Linked DNA regions of Homo sapiens. The protein of the gene in region 1 purifies or fractionates together with the protein of each later gene. This does not show direct contact. Each region holds a gene or a part of one and is shown on either strand. Other genes may lie near its edges. The genes, in order: CELA1 and CEP164.

Region 1 (4,389 bases):
GGAGCCTGCAGTGGCTCTGATCATTTTGTGGCCAACCCAAGGGTCCTCTGCCCACCTCAAGGCACATTGCAACTCTTTTCTCTCTCTATTTATTTATTTATTTATTTATTTATTTATTTATTTATTTATTTATTTTGAGACAGAGTCTTGCTCTGTCTCCAGGCTGGAGTGCAGCAACCTCCGCTTCCCAGGTTGAAGCGATTCTCCTGCCTCAGCCTCCAGATTAGCTGGGACTGCAGAAGCGCACCACCATGCCCAGCTAATTTTTGTATTTTGTTTTTGTTTTTTTTTAGATGGAGTCTCGCTCTGTCGCCCAGGTTGGAGTGCAGTGGCGCGATCTCGGCTCACTGCAAGCTCCGCCTCCCGGGCTCACGCCATTCTCCTGCCTGCGCCTCCCGAGGAGCTGGGACTACAGGCGCCTGCCACCACGCCCAGCTAATTTTTTGTATTTTTTTAGTAGAGACGGGGTTTCACTGTGTTAGCCAGAGTAGTCTCAATCTCCTGACCTCGTGATCCGCCCGCCTCCGACTCCCAAAGTGCTGGGATTACAGGCATGAGCCACCGCGCCCGGCCAATTTTTGTATTTTTAGTAGACGGGGTTTCGCCATGTTGGCCAGGATGGTCTCGATCTCTTGATCTTGTGATCCGCCCGCCTCAGCCTCCCAAAGTGCTGGGATTACAGGCGTAAACCACCGCGCCCGGCCGCAACTCCCTTCTCTCTCCTCTACGAACTGTGATGAACAAAGCCTTTCATCTCCTGCAGGAACCTCGGCTCCTACCCTCGTTCTCCCTCTGCCCTCCACCCTCCATCTACCCTCATAGCCCTCAGACTGTCTTCACATCCCAAGGATCCCCTCCTCTACCCTGCCTCATATTCTCCTCTGGGAGCCCCTTCTTGGCTCTCCATCTGAGAGGGCCCAAGCCTGTTTCTCAGTACTTTCCTCCCCCAGAATTATCTCCACTGCATCTATTTGGCTTTTGTGTCTGCATTTACACCTATGCCTGCATCCTGGGGGCATGTGCCATCTCCCTCTTTGGGCAGAGAGAGTTGCTGTGTCTTCCTTGCCCTTGCTAACCACTCCCCCCTCTTCCACTATCCCCCTGGCCTCCAGCTGCTAGTGCACAGGGCAAGTCTCTGCATTTATGGTGCCACTGAGGACAACGAGAGAGTGATGGATGACAAGGGGTGCTCCCTTAGAGAAAAACCAGCCCTGGTTCTCCATCTTATTTCTGAAAAAGAGTTTGTTGGATGCTTTTCAATTAAAAGCAGATGATTAATTCAGCCCTGGCCTTGTTCTGTCTTTGAATAACAGATACATTAGTTTACTTGAAAAGAAATATTTTCATTTGTATTTCCATGTCACTTGTGATTTTCCCTGCCTTGCACCCTCAGCCCTGCCAGTTGGCAAGAAGACAGTCAGCTTTGCTGCTAAGAGGAGTATAAAGAGGGCTTGGTCCAAGCAAGAAGGCAGTGGTCTACTCCATCGGCAACATGCTGGTCCTTTATGGTAAGTGGATATGGTCCAGTCGCAACCCTGGTCCTTTATGGTAAGTGGATCATGTGGCCTGAGGTCTATAGGGAGGGGGACTTGGGCAGGAAGGTCAGCAAATTTTCCCTAAGTCCAGGCCAGCACCCTGTCCCAGGGCAGGTGGGACGCTCTGCCTGCAGAGCGTCCTTTACTCTCCTGGAGGCCAAGATAGAAAAGGTCAGGGCCACTGGCTATTCAGGCCCCTCTGGGTGGCAGGTCCCTGGGCCACAAAGCAGAGAGAAGCCCCATCTGGTAGTGGGGTGGGTCCCTGGGCTTCCCCACCACCCCCATTGACAGGAGGACTTCCTCAGCAGGTGCCTGGCTGGGGTGTGCACTGCAGGCCCTGAACCCTGGAGAATCTTGCCAAAGCATTAGGGGGCTGGTGGGGGTCAAAGAGTGGGGGGGGGTCTCTTCAGGCCAAAGGGTGATCTTGAGCAAAGAGGAGACCACAAGGAGCCTCTGGGGCCTAGCCTGGTGGTTTGAGAGAGGTCCTTCATAGCATGCCGGAGTTCTGGGAACACCTGGGGGAAACAGAAGGCACCCAGGCACCCCTGTTTTCAAAAGGGGCTCAGAGAACTCACAGCTGGGCCCCTCATTCGTTAGAGAGGAACTGTGAATTTGCAGACAAGGCTAACATTCCTCAAAGCACAATCGCCACCCCCCACCCCTACCCCTGGCTGACCCCATGCTTAGTCATCACTCACTTTTCTTCTGCCCCACAAAGGACACAGCACCCAGGACCTTCCGGAAACCAATGCCCGCGTAGTCGGAGGGACTGAGGCCGGGAGGAATTCCTGGCCCTCTCAGGTGGGTGTTCCTTCCCAGCCCCAGACTTCCACCCAAATAAGAGCTCAGTGCATGACATAAGGTATCATGTGTATTTGTGCATGTCCCTATCAACAAGCAGCTCTCCAATTGTCTAGGTTCTCGATTTTAAAGATGGATGGGATCAGGCTTAGGTGGTTTTCTAAATGCAAAAGGCTTGGAGGAGGGGATTTATACACCAACCACAGTCCCTCTTCAAGGCACACACCCAAACACAAGATACATTTATATTCTCAGCGACAGCACTTGTGCCACGCAAGAAAGACTGGGTGCCAGACAGTCACCTTGGACTCCACATACCTTGAAACTCACACGCACACCACTCCACACTGTGTGTGTCACAATGCTTGCACGCATGTGCGCGCACACACACACACACACACGTACAGCATGCTGCTTAGTTGGCTATTTAGAGTTTCCACTTTGCTAACAGGGCAGCTGGGCCCTGATTTAAGTGATCTAAATATGTAAACCTGGCAAATTAACTGATGAAGATCCACACTTTGAGAAGATATCACTGCAATCAGAGTTTTAGCTTATAAAAGTCTGAGCCCCAGTTTTCAGGAGTAGAGCTATTACATAACATGAGGTGCTAGAAGAAGAGACATGAACTGATAAAAACAAACATCCTATTGGTATTTTTTTTTTTTTGAGATGGAGTTTTGCTCTCATTGCCCAGGCTAGAGTGCAATGGCATGATCTCGGCTCACTGCAAACTCTGCCTCCTGGGTTCAAGCAGTTCTCCTGCGTCAGCCTCCTGAGTAGCTGGGATTACAGGCGCCTGTCACCATGCCCAGCTAATTTTTGTATTTTTAGTAGAGACGGGGTTTCACCATGTTGGCCAGGCTGGTCTCAAACTCCTGACCTCAGGTGATCCACCCGCCTCAGCCTCCCAAAGTGCTGGGATTACAGGCATGAGCCACAGCGCCTGGCCTCCCATTGGTATTTCTAAGTAGTCCCTGAAGTGGGGAGACAGGAGATGTCTTGAAAACACTAAAGGTACAGCTCTGGAGACCTAAGCCTGTTGGGCTTAGGTGATGGAGCAAATCTTTGCCTATAGTTCCTCTTTTTTGGGGGAGGAGAGGGGGCGATGGAGTCTCGCTCTGTCACCAGGCTGCAGTGCAGTGACGCTATCTCAGCTCACTGTAACCTCCACCTCCTGGGTTCAAGCAATTCTCCTGCCTCAGCCTCCTGAGTAGCTGGGACTACAGGTGCATGCCACCACGCCCGACTAATTTTTGCATTTTTAGTAGAGATGGGGTTTCACCATGTTGGCCAGGATGGTCTTGATCTCCTGACCTGGTGATCCACCCGCCTTGGCCTCCCAATGTGCTAGGATCACAGGCGTGAGCCATGGTGCCTGGCCTATAGTTCCTCTTTAAGGGAGAACAGAGGTAGAAGGAGTTCCAAAAAAGGAGTTACAATGGGTTCTAGGTCCATTGCAACAACCTAGAGAGATAATGCCAAATACACTGTGTGCCTTTACTCCTCCATCCATGTACACAGCAAACATCACCAAGCGATGGAGCATCCCTTCCTGCTGGCCCCAGAAGCATCTACACACCCCTTATCAATGCCACACTCCAGGTGGCCACTACCAAGCAATCAGTAGCAATTGGCAGGTCAGATGAAACCTATTTGCCATCTCTAGCCTAGAAAGAGAATGTTTTGAAGGACAGCAGGACTTTAAGGAGGTGACATGTAGTTTGAGGCAAAGTCTTTTATATTTAATTATTTTTGACGTTGTAGAGGCGAGGTCTCACTATGTTGCCCAGGCTGGTCTCCAGCTCCTAGGCTCAACTGATCCTCCTGCCTCAGCCTTCCAAAGTTCTGGGATTACTGGCATGAGCCACTGCAACCGACCTGGGGCAAAACCATTTGAGAAACACCAACCTATCCCTTCTTTCTTTCCTCCCCATCTAGATTTCCCTCCAGTACCGGTCTGGAGGTTCCCGGTATCACACCTGTGGAGGGACCCTTATCAGACAGAACTGGGTGATGACAGCTGCTCACTGCGTGGATTAGTAAGAAAAAC
Region 2 (3,812 bases), on another chromosome or scaffold:
CACTTTACATGTATTGAATCATATAAGCCTCACAACACATTGTGATGGATATTGTTAGTACTCTCATTTTATAGATGAGAAAACTGAGGCTGTCCAGCTAGTAAGAGGCAGAGCTGGGATTGAAAGCCAAGAATGTTCCAAAGCTTTTGCTCATTACCACTGCGTAATCAACTCTGACATCTTCCACCTTCTCCCCTTTACCTTCTCCAGTCAATCTTTTCTGTGGTCAACCTTCTTTGTAATTGTTGGAGCAGGGTGGAAGAAATAAATATACAGAGAACCCTCATTATGTCTGTGAGTGTATATTCTCTGTTAGTGTGCAGATGTGCAAAACTCTAGCTATGCTGACAAAGTACAGGGCAAGGTAGCCACAATATTGAAGGACTGGGAAACGATATGTACTGAATGGAAGAGAACTGGGAATACTTAGCCTACCTTAGCTAGAGAATCCTAGGGTGTCCCCAGATGAGCAGAAGGCAGACTTGAGATACCAGGGAACATTTTTTTAGAACCTGATTATTGGCTTACTATTAGACCTTCTAATAGTTAAGAATTATCTAACTATGGAATTGAAAATAGAATCTGTAATACTAGCTAAATTTGTGTAACTTTTCTGTATACAGGGACTGTGCTAGGCACTTTATAAGTGTTGTTTCATTTTACTTTCAGGCTTTTTGATTTTTGTTAAGATTGTTTTAATTATACACATGCAGTTATTGAGGCTGAGAGAGGTGAAGCACCTTGCCTAAGGTCATACAGCTGCTAAGTGAGAGAGCTGGGATTTGAATCCAGGTCTTCTGTCTCCAAAGCTGGTACTTTGACCACTATGCCGCCTGTCACTGGAAGCACAGAGAGGAAAATTTTGGCATGGGAAGGAAGGTGGACCAAAACTACTGCGGGTCTTCCTAGCTTCTGAGATTGCTGGTGTATTTTTTTTTTTTTTCAGATAGGGTCTCACTCTGTTGCCCAGGCTGGAGTATGGTGGTACAATCATAGCTCACTGCAGCCTCGAACTCCTGGTCTCAAGTGATCCTCCCACCTCTGCCTCCCCACTTTACACTCTTTATGTAACTCTGTCTTCCTTTCCATCTGATCACATAGCTCCTGCCTCAGCCTTCCGAGTAGCTGGGACCACAGGTGCACGCCACCATGCCTGGCTAATATATATATATATATATATATTTGTGGAGACAGGGTCTTACTATATTGCTCAGGCTGGTCTTGAGCTTCTAGGCTCAAGTGATCCTAGGCCTTGGTCCCCCATAGTATTGGGATTACCGGTGTGAGCCACAACACCCGGCCTATTCCTTGGTTTTATATTAGCAGTTACAGCAGTAACTGAGCTCCGACAGCTTACATAGGCTTATTTTAGGCTTTGTTGGAAAATTCCAGAGGAGGAGACATGGCCCTCAGAAGTTTGTGGTTTAACAGGAGAGGTAAGAAGACACATTTTCATAAAAAAAGTAATATTGGCCAGGCACGGTGGCTCACGCCTGTAATCCCAGCACTTTGGGAGGCCGAGGCGGGTGGATCACCTGAGGATAGGAGGTCGAGACCAGCCTGACCAACATGGAGAAACTGCATCTCCACTAAAAAAATACAGAATTAGCCAGGCGTGGTGGCACATACCTGTAATCCCAGCTACTCAGGAGGCTGAGGCAGGAGAATCGCTTGAACCCAGGAGGCGGAGGTTGCAGTGAGCCGAGATCGCACCATTGCACTCCAGCCTGGGCAACAAGAGCGAAACTCCTCTGTCTCAAAAAGAAAGAAAGAAAAAATAATAATATTGAGAGAAATCTGTCTGGGAACACATGAAAATTATGAGCTCAGTGCTAAGGTGGTTCTGGGTTGACAGGAGAGGATAAAATTGGCTGGGAAGGCTTCCTGGAGGAAACGTGTGAGCCACTCCTTTTTTGCCTGATTCTGAGATTGGTAGGAGATGCATGAGTGCAGTTGGGTGACCCCTCCTAACTCTGGCTCACAGAAGGTCTCAGGCTAGGCAGCAAGTAGATCTCACTGGATTTCATCTCATCTATTGGTAACTGCTACGTAGTGAACAATGTTGAGGGTTCTGAGGCCATGTCTAGGGTGCCATAATTGACTAGTGATGTCCTTCACAGTTTTAGGCCTGGAGGAAAATAGTAGGACATGTCCTATTTGTTTGCCATGGCAGATCTAAGGGCTGCATTCTCATTTATTGATTTATTTTAGAGACAGGTCTTGCCCTGTCACCCAGGCTGGAGTGCAGTGGTGTTATCATAGCTCACTGTAGCCTTGAACTCCTGGGCTCAAGGGATCCTCCCACCTGAGCCCCCCAAGTAGCTGGGACTACAGGTGTGTGTCACCATGCATGGCTGATATTTTTAATTTTTTGTAGAGACGGTCTCACTATGTTGACCCAGCTAGTCTCAAACTCCTGGCTTCAAGTGATCCTCCTGCTTTAGCCTCCCAAAGCCCTGTTATTACAGGTGTGAGCCACAGTGCTTGGCCCAAGGGCTGCATTCTTAGACTTCTCATCCTCTGTTACCACTCCAACTCAGGTTACCATTGCCTCTTACCTAGCCTAGCTCATGGTTTTCTACCTTATTTCTCTGCATCAGCCCTGATTTTCTTCTTTCCAATCTGGCCTCCGCTTTAGGGTGTACTCCTAGTAGCTTCTGGAGTAGTTTTTCAAAATGTGTATCTGGAAAAACTATTTCCTGGCTTCCATTCCTCTCTCTTTTTTGAGACAGGGTCTTGCTCTGTCACTGAGCCTGGAGTGTGGTGGCACAATCAAGGCTCACTGCAGCCTTGACCACCTGGGCTCAAGTGATCCTCCCGCCTCAGTCTCCCCTGTAGCTGGGACTACAGGTATACACCACCATACCTGGCTAATTTTTAATTTTTTTTGTACAGGGTAAGACAGGGTCGTCTTATGTTGCTCACGGTGGTCTTGAACTCCTGGGCTCAAGCGATCCTCCTGCTTTGGCCTCCCAAAGTGCTGAGATTGCAGGTGTGAGCCACTGTGCCCAGCCCTAGTTCTGTTATGATAAAGGGCAAGTCTGCATGGCCTGGCTCCCACTGGCCTCCCCAGCATCCTATCCAACTGTGCTGCTTCTTGCCTCGTGTTGCCTTCTGCTGAAGGACTTTTGCATGCATCTGTTAGAACACGCTTTCCTTTTTTTCTTTGTCTAGTGAATACCTACTCATCATTCAGTTCTCAGTGTAGGCATCATCTAAATCAGGCTTATTTCCTTCAGAGCACTTCCCTCGGTTCTAATTATACATTTCTCTGTGACTGATTGGTTTGTCTCCCTCCCTTCCCAGACGAGCTCAAGAGTAGCAGCAGCTGAATCTGTTTTTAATCACGATTGCATCTCTAGCGCCTAGAAATAAATGCACGTGGTAGGTGCCCAATAAATATTCCTCGAGTGAGTAGATGATCTTTAGTAGCCATCCTGCTACTACATACAGACAAATAGATATGACTTCTGTTCCCACGTTCCTTTTTTCTTTAACTCATTGGCCTTTTGGACCTGTCCTTGCCCACATCTTTTCTAGAGCCTGATAAGGTAAGGAAAGAAGGTAGAATACAACCCACCCATATTTTAATTTTTTTCTGGCAGAACATTTATTTGAATTTGGATGATCCATGAATTCAGATTTCCCAGAGTTTTCCTGATCTTTAAGTAGTTAAATATATCGCCAGGTGCGGTGGCTCCTGCCTGTAATTCCAGCACTTTGGGAGGCCAGGGCCGGTGGATCACCTGAGATCAGGAGTTTGAGACCAGCCTGGCCAATGTGGTGAAATCTAATCTCTACTAAAAATCCAG

The links.
Region 2: the proteins of CELA1 (region 1) and CEP164 purify together in Homo sapiens (affinity purification with mass spectrometry; 2 studies listed by BioGRID and IntAct, with this or other methods). This does not show direct contact.

What each region holds. Positions count from the first base shown.
Region 1 is NC_000012.12:51,343,742-51,348,130, reverse strand, and holds the start of CELA1 (chymotrypsin-like elastase family member 1), read left to right. Parts: upstream 1-1,451; 5' UTR 1,452-1,492; coding exon 1,493-1,508; intron 1,509-2,253; coding exon 2,254-2,336; intron 2,337-4,277; coding exon 4,278-4,378; intron 4,379-4,389. UniProt on the Homo sapiens protein: Serine proteases that hydrolyze many proteins in addition to elastin.
Region 2 is NC_000011.10:117,330,822-117,334,633, forward strand, and holds part of CEP164 (centrosomal protein of 164 kDa), read left to right. Parts: intron 1-3,812. UniProt on the Homo sapiens protein: Plays a role in microtubule organization and/or maintenance for the formation of primary cilia (PC), a microtubule-based structure that protrudes from the surface of epithelial cells. Plays a critical role in G2/M checkpoint and nuclear divisions.